2 separate regions of the Homo sapiens genome follow, and region 1 is linked to region 2. A link means that fine-mapping ties the variant in region 2 to the expression of a gene that starts in the linked region. Tissue or cell type: whole blood. Region 2 holds a variant in brackets; the other region holds the start of a gene. All regions are shown on one strand. Distances are from middle to middle.

The links.
Region 1: it holds the start of LRRC8D, and the variant in region 2 is fine-mapped to the expression of LRRC8D in whole blood (TOPMed, PIP above 0.99). The same link has a PIP of 0.9 or more in T cells.

The regions. Positions count from the first base shown.
Region 1 is chr1:89,818,343-89,823,724 of GRCh38, forward strand. It overlaps LRRC8D (leucine rich repeat containing 8 VRAC subunit D), which reads left to right and starts at 2,690. Exons shown (of 3, transcript NM_001134479.2): 1 at 2,690-2,949. LRRC8D-DT (LRRC8D divergent transcript) reads right to left here and starts at 3,452. Exons shown (of 1, transcript NR_185885.1): 1 at 1,832-3,452. RefSeq lists silencers at 2,219-2,278, 2,719-3,068, 3,169-3,268, 3,359-3,568, 3,440-3,659.
Region 2 is chr1:89,860,733-89,866,114 of GRCh38, forward strand. All of the region lies in intron 2 of LRRC8D (leucine rich repeat containing 8 VRAC subunit D), which reads left to right. Among named protein-coding and RNA genes, the nearest start is that of LRRC8D-DT, 42 kb to the left of the region's middle. The variant A/AG (reference allele first, on the strand shown) is at 2,927.

The DNA of each region.
Region 1 (5,382 bases), 42 kb before region 2:
GGATTACAGGCATAAGCCACCATGCCCAGCCAATTTCTGTTGCTTATAAGCCACCCAGCTTATGGTATTTTGTTATAATAGCCTGAATATACTCTAAAACAATCCTTTAAATTTTTAAAATTATTATTCTGATTATCAGAGTAATATGTGCTCAATATAAAAACAATTCAAACATACAGAACTTGATGAAAGGCCCTAGTAATCCCACACCCAGAGATAATCACCATTAACAGCTTGTTATATATGCTTCCAGACTTCTTCTGAAGCATACATTTAATAACATGTATATCTTAATGCAAAAAAGTACAAAAAAATGGAATCATACTATTCATATTGTTCTGCAGCCTCCTTTTTTTTCACTTATAGATTTTGGACATCCTTCCATGTAGGTACAAATAGATCTAGCTTATTTTTGTTAATGGCTGCTTATGGTTTCCTTCTACAGATCTAGCAAAATTTGCTTAAACAGTTTCCTACTGGGACTTTATTATTTGATTTTTACACCATTACATGTTCCCACTATTACAAACAATGTTGCAATAAGACACGTATATATATATTTTTGTACATGTGTAAATATTTCTGACATAATTTTTGCACAAATATGCTTAAAGCACAAACTCTTAGACATGGACTTACCTATTCAAAGGGAACACACCTATTTATCAAAAATTTCCAAATTGTCCTCCAAAGGGGTTTGTCCAATTTCCTCTTACTTTTACAGTGTGTGAGTGTCTATTTCTCCACATTTGACTGTTTTCTGAATATCACTTTTTTCTTTTCTCGATTTATACCAATCTTAAAATCATGTTTTTCAAGTCTAGAATCACAATTTAAAACCCAGGGAAGATCAAAAGAACAAAGTACAGAAGATTGGTTTTTTTGGTTTTTTGGTTTTGAGATGGAGTCTCACTCTGTCGCCCAGGCTGGAGTGTGGTGGCACCATCTCAGCTCACTGCAACCTCCGCCTCCCAGGTTCAAGCGATTCTCCTGCCTCAGGCTCCTGAGTAGCTTGGATTACAGGTGCGTGCCAACATGCCCAGATAATTTTTGTGTCTTTAGTAGAGACGGGTTTTCACCATGTTGGTCAGGCTGGTCTCTAACTCCTGACCTCGTGATCCTCTTGCCTCGGCCTCCCAAGGTACCGGGACTACAGGCGTGAGCCACTGCACCCGGCCTATAATTTTTTTTTTTTTTTACAAACAGCAAAACATTCCATATTCATTATAATAGTGGGCTGTTTTCAATAAAAATATCACACCACTAGTTGTTAAGTTTTAAAAGACCTCTCATCTCTTAGATCAGCAAATCTGACACTGATTAGATCACTTACACACACTCCCTGCCCATACACCTCCTTCTTGGCAGTGTGTGGAACAGGAGTGGCTGCTGGCAAGGAGGGTCGGGGAAGGAAAGTGAGAGCAAAAGGGCCGAGGGCTCAGAATCTGGTGGCATCTTGTAACGGGTCTCGGGCAGTCCCTTGAGTGTATTCTGGACCTCTCTGTTCATGTTCCTGTTTGGGCTGCTCTTCTTCACGTCCAATGCCTGAGGGCCAAGTGCTCACCATCCAAGGGTCAATTCTATCAGCTCCTCTCTGAATCCTTTTCTGAAACCCTGGACAATCATTCTCTTTAATGTCTCACTGTCTCTGAACCGACACCTTCCTGAGTACCTGTAACATTTGTGCAGCATGCTTATTAAGAATATTTAGATGCTGGGTAAACGTTGATTGAACATTTGCTGACATGGAGAGATATTGGTAGAAGACAGATTAGACTTCCGATGGTTTACAGAAACACATGGATTCAGATAAAAGAAGATATGAAAGCACTGGGTTGAACCACATATTTTATTACAACCAAATAACTCCAAATATCCCGCCTTAATTTATTTATTGGCCCCTGCCTCTGCTCACCCACAAAAAAGACTGCAAATGAACCCCGATCCTACAACAACAACAACAAAAAACGGTGACATTATCGGGCTGCAAAACCCTCTTAGCATAGAATAATCTTTTCATCTGCCTCTTTCAGATGTAACATATTTTTGACGAAAAGAATGGGATGAAAACGGCGGGCTCAGATAAAAACAAGAACCGACTTTCCAATACAGCTTCAATAACAGACGGAACACATGAAGCTGAGAAACTCTCCATGCCAAGTAGTAGTTGTGTGTGCCCCAAAGCTCAGATAAGTACTTCTCCTTAGAGTTGGAAGGCACTTAAGTGACTTTTTAACGTAATTCAACTCCCCACCCCCAGCGCCAAGTCTTAATATCAGAGTTTTAGTCGACGGGACAGCCTCCTTCGCCCAGGACGGGTGAAGGCTCCTGACCATGCCTCGCAGCTAACTGGCAGCTGCGCCTGCCCGGCACCGAGCCCTGCCCAGGTGGACGCTTGCGAGAGCATTACGGCGATGGTTATGTAGGCTGCCGTTCTTCCCCTCCCAAGCACCTGCTCCGCATCTAGCAGTCGCTCGCCGCCAGTCTCCAACCCCGGGTCCCCTCCCTCGCCACACAGACCCCGTCCGGTCAGGCGCTGCAGGGCCACCGGAGAAAGCGCTCGCAATCACATGGAGGCCCGGGCCCGCCCCATTGGCTGCGGCCGGGCCAGTCGCGGCACTCGCCGGCTGCGGTTGGTCCCAGAGCTGCAGCGCCTGCACGGGCCCGGAGTCCATGTTACGCTTTGTCTAATTCCCCTCGTTACAGAGTCATGTGCTGCTGCTCCCGTCGCCGCTGCTGCCGCTGCCGCTGCCGCCGCCCGTGGTGCCCCGGCTCCTCCGCCGCGCTTCGAGGTGGCAGCCGCGGGCGGGGCCGCGGGAGCAGGGTCCAGGGTGCAGCGCGCCTTCGCCGCCCCGGCGCGTCCCGGTGCAGCCGCCGCCCGCCGCGGGTGATGCCGCCACCTCCGGCCTCAGCATAAGCCGTGGCTTGGCGGCCGAGCTGCACCCCAAGGTTGGTGCGCACCTCTCCCGGCAGGGGCCGGGGGCTGCGAGGGAAGGCGACGCGCAGGTGGAGCCGCGCCGAGCCGGAGCGCGCAACCCTGGCGCAGGCGCCGCGGCCCGAGCTGCGGTTGCGGCCGGGAACTCATTCGGGGACGTCCGGGGGTCGGGAGGAGGTGGCGGCGAGCGGAGTGGGCTCCCGTTTGCTGCCGCCAGGGCCTGGGAGATTGTTCCGCTTTCTGCAGTCTGAGCGTCGGCCGCTTCGGCCCCGGGCGGCCGGCCCTGCGGGAGGGGAGTGCGGCTTCCTGGCTCCTGAACCCCTCGCGCGCGCTCCCTTCTCTCACCTCCCTCCGCCCTATCGGAAAGGCGGGGAGAGCCGGTTTCGGCTCTGCTGGTTCCTCCCGGAGGTGGGTGTTTGGTGTCTGGCCTTGCTGGCCCGGCGTCCAAAGGTGAGCCCTTTAACTTCTCCAGAATCGCCTCCCCTCCGCTTCCTTCCTGTGCAGGGTGGGCTGCGCTGGGAGCCCGGCGGGCGGGGGCGGGGAGGTGAAGGCCCGCGCCCCGCCCCCCGCGCCTGTGGGAGGGAGCTGGGGGCCCGCAGGTGCACCCAGCCGTCCGCGGGCCGTCTCCGGGTTGGGTACCGGTATAATCCGCTTCTAGCTTGTTTGGAGGCGTGGGCTCTTGGGAGCGGGACTTCTGCTCAAATCCTGTCCAGGGGCTTGAAAAGGAGGAGAATTGGGGGTGGTTGCCGGGAGGACCAGCACCTCCAGTTACTGGAGGGTTGATAGGGGCCTTCTCCTTTCCGTCACCCTTTACTAGGGGGTATCCCTTGCAGATAAATGAGATTTTTTGATTTCTTAAAAAGCCAGCTGCAGTGAAGAAGAACTGCTGCAGGTCGAGGGGAAGAGAGGTAGGTCCTTGCTGGAGAGGGAGAGGTGGGCTGTGAGGTTCCAGGAGCACGCACTTGGGGTGTGTGTGGCCGAAAGTATGGAGGTAGGGTTGTGGGAAGGAAACAGCCGAGATGAGAGGGAGGGCGCACTCAGGATGTAGGCGGAGAGATGGGGAATAGGTACTGGGGAGTCCTAGCGGAATGTGGGGCCCAGCTGGAGCCGCTTGGCTTATATTTGGCTCCTCGTTGCCTCGCAGATTTCCTGCTCTTGGATCTTCAAAAATATTTTTTTGTTGGACAAAGAAAACTCTGAGGACATATTTTGGAAGAGCTGATTTCTGGAAACTTTCCTTGGCAGCTTTGATAGTAAAATTCCGTACAGGCAGCGTTTATTGAGCACCTATTACGTGGTTTGTACCGGACTTTGGAAGAGTCTGGACAGGCAGGGAATCCCCGTTTGCAGTAATGATGAGGGCTGTCTACCTTATAAACAAATAAGGGGCCCCTCCCAGTGCCAAGAATGAGAGTGATCAGACCTTCCTCGCCATAGCATCTGGGACCTCTGCTTCTTACAGACCTGTGGGAAGAACCCTGCACCATATCCTGTAAATGGGGTCCTCAGGCAGCATTTATTTTTGCAGTCCAAAAATAGTGACCAAACACCTACTGTCAGCTAGGCGAGAGTTGGGGTTCTTGCTTCATCTGTCTTGACACCAACTAACTAAATCCCTGTTAAAATCCAAGTGCAAGATGGGGAGGAATCTGAGATGAAAATTAGGTGGTTAAAACAGGGGTCACGAAAAGTTGATTTGGGGTGTTTGGTCTCTGTAGGTTACTTATGGAGCCCCCCATAAAATGATTAGGTAATCTATGGAGCCAGGGAAAAATTCCAAAATCTTGAATTGGCACAGTTTATTTATATATTTGAACACTATGTTAGATTTGTCTCGTTTTTATTGAGAGTGTATGTGTGCGTGTTGATTAAAACCTAACAGATTAGAAGGTTGGAGAGGAAACTGTCCTTAGATGACCCAGCCTTCCATTACCATGTGGAGTAGCATATGATGCAACACTTAAAGTATTGAGCCATATTCATATCATTTTCTCCCTGCTGTGTTTTCCAGCATTTAAAAAACATGGTCAAAACTTGGCCCTTTTTTTCTCAAAATCGCTAAAGTTTAATGGAAAGAAAAAAGAAAAAAACTAGGCCCCTTTTCCCTTAATTTTTATATTATGCAGCATTTTTAAAAATTAATTTTAGAAAATTCTGATGTGTTTGTCATGTCCAAATAGTTAAATTGTTTTGGTAGCTATAGTTTGGAAATTAGACTCGATTCTGTTCTCAGTACTGTAGACAAAATAGCTATTAAAGTCAAAAGTTTGTCAAAACTTTGTAATCATGATTATTATGTTGTTGAAGTGGTAGCTTGTAAGAGATTTCAGTTATTTTTAATTGGAGCTGGTGTTTGACATTCTAAGAAACACCAGTTAATATTTGTTGAGTGCCAGCAGGAAGCAGAGAACTGGAGTGGGTGCTGTGGGATCTTAACAAGGCAGGAG
Region 2 (5,382 bases):
GGCAACAGAGCAAGACTCTATCTCAAAAAAAAAAAAAAAAAAAAAAAAAAAAAATATATATATATATATATATATATACACACACAGACGCATTTTGTACGTATTTTTAAGATTTTCCTTGAAATTCTTTTTAACGTTCTCCATTCCCCCTTTTAAAGTTACTTAGAAGGGCTGTTATAGGAAACCTCATTTGCTGCAGATCTGATTATCTTCTGGGATAAAGATAGGTAGAAGTTGCAGGGAGACATACTTTAGGTTAATGCAAGGAACAAATCAACTTCAAAGCCATGCAGAGCTGGGCTGAATTGCTGGGTGCTGTCCAGGGCCTTAGCATCAAGGGCACTTTTGAGAGTCTGTCCATCCTTGGCCAAGGGAGTAGAGAGATTTGAAACTTCATGGGAGGGTGGGGCAGAGATGCTCTCTAAGGTTACACAGTGTGTACATACCATTCAGTCACAAGCTTTGTGCTAGAAAAGCCCATGCTTAAATACCACCTCTGTCCCCTGCTAACTGTGTGACCCTAGGAAAGTAAGCTAAATTCACTAAGCCTCAGTTTCCCCCTCTTTAAAATGAGGTCAAAATGATAAGAGGATTATCATGTGACTTTAACATACATAAGGCACTTGGTTTAGTTATTCCTTCCCACTGACTTTGTGATTCTATAGTTTTTCATTCTGTGCCTTTTTTCCTTTCTTTCTTCTTTTCTTACTCTCCAGTTCATTCATTGTAGAGCCATTAATGGTTTTTTCACCTTGTATTGTCCTCTTCTTTATTAATACCTGTGCCTTAGGGCCTACTAGTGGTGCCAGGGATTCCCTGAGCTCCTTTGGTAGCATCACTGTCCATGTCACATATCTGGACAAGTCAGCGAAGAGGTATTGGTCCTCTGTATCCTTTGGACTTGGCATATGGGCATCCCTGAAGACTTTTACAAAGCCAAGATTCATTGCTACTTTAGCTTTCCTGTGTTGTGTACTATAACAAGTTCTGCTCCATGAAAGCATCAGATAGCAGTTGGATATAGATGGAGAAAAAGGTTTTGTACAGGGACTTATGGATGTAGAAATCTATGCTGGTAACATTTATTTTTTCTTCATCTAAGTTTCTGTTTTTGGAGCCAGGCTTCTAATTACAAATAATTGTATTTGACAGAGAAGAAGAATATCAGATCCTGAAGGGCCAGAATGATTCATCCTCTTTAAGGGGAACATGTAACATAACTTTGGGGAATAGCTATAGATACTAAAGGGGCAACATAAAACAGTTATTGATTACAAAGTGTATGAAGACCCAGTTGCTTGGCAGAGTGATATCATTTAGAAAAGTGGTAGAATCTCATTCGTACACACTTCATGACTAAAAGAGCTGGTTATACCGTTAGATTGTTAAAGCTAGAAGGAGGCTTTCAGGTCACTCTATGCAGCGATTTTCTTCTATTAATAATAAAATGGAGATCAGAAGAGTGAAGTGACTTTTTCCTTGAAACATAACTCTTAATACTAAAAAAGGCAAGTCAGGGAGATGTGGGCCCTAATTTTGTTGTTATTTTCTTACATCTAGTGTACCACCCTGACTCCAGCCTCTGGACCTGGGAGTCATTTCATTGTAGCTCAAAGAAGGCTATATATACCCTGTTAGCCCATACTGCTTACTAAGTTGTTAATGAAAAAGTTATTGTTCTTCATAAGAGATCCGTCTTTTGTCCATGGTAAATGATGTTATGAAATTTTTGGTTTATTTGGTTGTTCTAGGTTAGGAATAATTGAAGTAGGCCAGTCTTTGGACAGTTTAGTTCTCCTGTGTTTAGCACTTTTTGTATTTCTTCTCTGTGCTGGATGTATTTATGTTTTTCAGTCTTTCTGTGAGTTAACTCTAGGAGATGGGTATAACTGTATCCATTTTTGTCAGATGATAAAAAGAGGCTTGAAATGCTTAAACAACTTGTTCCAGGTTATACAGCTTATAAACTGGAACTGGATCCCAGGTGAGTTTTCCAGAGCACATGTTCATAATTGCTGTCTTTTTTTTACATTTCCTGCTTCCCTTACTACCTGAGTATTGGGGGAACAGGCTGTGGAACTGAAGATTTTACTGTAACAAATGATCCAAGGAAGATCATCTGGCCTGACCCCTTGGCTTCCAGCAGGAAGGGTGTTTTCTCCCGTGATTTCATGGATGAGATATTCAAGGCCTTGTTTTTATTTATTTTTTGGTTTGCTGTTTCAAAATAAAAAGGCTTTTAGTTCTTTGTTATTATAAAAGTAATAAATTCTCATATAAAGAAAATATAGGAAATAAGGAGAATTAAAAATGACCTTTGTAGTTCCCTAGTCAGTTGATGAAGAGTGGATTCAGATAGCTGTATCCCCTCACTAGCCATTTGACTTTGGGCAAGTTTTATAGCCTTTTCATGCCTCAGTTCCCTGTATGTAAAACAAGAATAATAATAGTGCCTGCCTTATATAGTTGTTATGAGGATTACATGGGCTCTTATTTGTGAAGCATTTAGAACAGTGACTGGCACACAGCAAGTGCAGCACAAGCATTGGTTGGATAAAATAAAGGGCTGCCCATGTAGTCTTCTGGTCTGTGGCCCCTGGAGGAAGAGGCAGAGGCAGACCCAAAATGTAGATCACGCAGTACACAAGTGGGTAATGGGCTGAGCTGTGTGTTGAAGCAGAGACAGGAAGAGGCGGCCTGGGAACCTCAGTTTCTTTTTGCCTCCTTAGTGATCCTAATAACCTGGAATATTAATAAACTTATGTCCCTCACTTTCAAGATGCTGAAAATGATTATGCTTCTTTTTTTTTTCCTCCTAGCTTTCAGAGAGCTCATGGAAACCAAGCCTGTTTATTTGAGATTTTTCTGTTGCAGGGTAGGCCAGACATGAATTTCCTTTCATGTGATATTTTCTGTGGTCTGTGTT[A/AG]TTTAGTTCTTCCTTTGTTTTCTTGTGCTTTGGTGTGAAGAAAGAAGATGCCCTGTTTATAAAGCCTTGGTCTTTCATGTATCATGCATTCTTAAACTAATTCCAGTTGCTCTGACCCTTTGAGATTTTAAAATTGCTTTGTTCCGGTTTTTAAGTACTTTTGAAATATTAAAAATGTTCATGAGGGAGTGGGTCATGGGAAAAATTTCCCAGGGTTGTTTGTTCTTAGAAAATTGTGAATTTGCATGGAGAGGTTTTATGCTGGGTTAAATTCTGCCAGGTGCATTGGTCACTTGAACTTGAGTCTGGTTCTTTTGATATTTAAATCCGTGTTGTTATGGCATAAAGTGCAGAGCTGGAACCTCTTAAAACTAAATGCCTGCTATGTTGAGCTCTTGCCCCATTGTCCCATCAAAGAAAGGTCTTAACCAGTACTTGGGTTTGCATTGAGGCACCATGTCAATAGTGAGGATCAAAAGATTGGTCTGTTCTGTTTTTTGTCTTTGAACCAAGACTTTCCAAAAAGAACATAGACTTGTTTTGAATATTGCCGCCTCTGGGTGTGAGTGATTATGCAAGTCAGTAGCATTTTTGTTTTTTTGTTTTGAAAAAACTGTTCAACATAGATGCAGAGGTAAGAAATTGCAAGAAAAACAAAAACACTTTTTCAAACTTGTACAAAGCCATCTTTGAATGCAGGTGGTCCTCAGTTTACAAGGAGTTGTAATTCTTCCTTCATCTGATGAAAGACACCACTATCCACCAGTTACCATTTGAACACTTTCCATGATGTATCCTTCTCATTTAACTCCCAGATGCAATGAAGTGCCAAGCCCTCTCAATTCTATCTTAAATTTTATCTGGTATCTCTTAACTGTGCTGTGGGCTGCTGCAGTCCACAGCTCCAGTTGCGGCCTCCATCATGTTTTGCCTGGACTGCTGCAGCTGCCTCTGAACTCCAGTGCTCTCTATACATTGGAACCTTATGTCAGTGACCTCCTTAACACCCTCCAGTGAATTCTCATTATCCTTGGAACTCCTTAATAAGGAGTTAAAAGCCAGAGTCCTTAAGACATCAAGACCTTGCCGCAGGAAACCTCAGCCTCCATCTCTAGTCTAGAGTACTAGCTTTACCTACCCCCGACCCCTCACCATCTTCCAGACACAAAAAACTTCTTCCTGTACTTCTTATTGGCTAAGTTTTCATGACAATAAGCTTTGACTACAGGGTATGTCTGATGTCTAGCACACTTTTTCCCCTTCTGCTCCTTCACTTTTGTTTGGGTAACTCCTGTGTCTTCTTTTGGTTTTAATGTCCTTCCAGAAGCTGTCTAACCCCTAAACTGGATTAGGTCCCCTTGCTGTTTCCATAGAACATTTTACATCTCCAACATTTCACTTATTACATTGATTTGCCTTTTCTAATAGATTTCAAGCCCCATAAGGGCATAAATATGTCTATCTTGTTTCCCACTGTATCCCAATACCCAGCACACAGTAGGATCTCCCGTGTTTTTGAATGAATGTGGTCCAGATCATTCCCTTATTATTACTTGTAGTAGTGCTTAGCACACAACCTGTGAATGAATTTCATTCCTTTAAAGGGAGTTTTCAAAAACCATTCTTGTTGATTACTTTGCTTAATTGTACTAAATATGTATAAACATGAAATTATATATATATATATATATATATATATATACTTTCTGTGCTTATAGTTTTTATAAAACTATTAAACATTTTAAAATCGCAAATACAAATAATATATTAAAACCTTTGAAATTTAAATTAATAAGATGAATGCTTTTTTGCCAACACTAAATCACTTATGTTGATTTTTTAAAATATGAAGTTGTTCCATTGGGTCCAAATATGTACTTAAGGCATATGAGTCTTTTGACTGATAGTAGTAATGTAGAGAATACTTATTTGCATAAATAAGTTATTCAGAAGCACATTATGAACTCGAAAGCCTTGCTTGCTAGCTCAGGACTATCAGAACTTATCAGATCGTAAATCTGCCAGTGAATAGTTCTTTAGTTACAATTTTAATGATTTTAATGACTTACAACTTTTTTGTTAGAGCTGTAAATGTCCTGTTCATTCAAAGATGATGTTACCATTTCAGAATTACTGACATCAACTCCAAATATATATCTAATTCAACTATTGGCAGAATCAGGAACAGGAATATGTTTGTAAATTTTAGTTCTTAGAGATATGGAAAATTTTTAAGGTTTTCAGCATGCAGCCAAGTGTCAGACTGTTGAAGGAAGTCAATAGATTATAGAAATGACTCATTCAGATTATTTTGAAAACAACTTGAACAGAACTTTTTGTTATCATTGCCTCCTCTTTATAATTTTTGAATTGCTGAAACAAAACCTTTGCTCTACAATACCTGCATGTGTAGCACATACCTTCATGTCATTTGACCTTCCCTTGGTGTGTTTCTG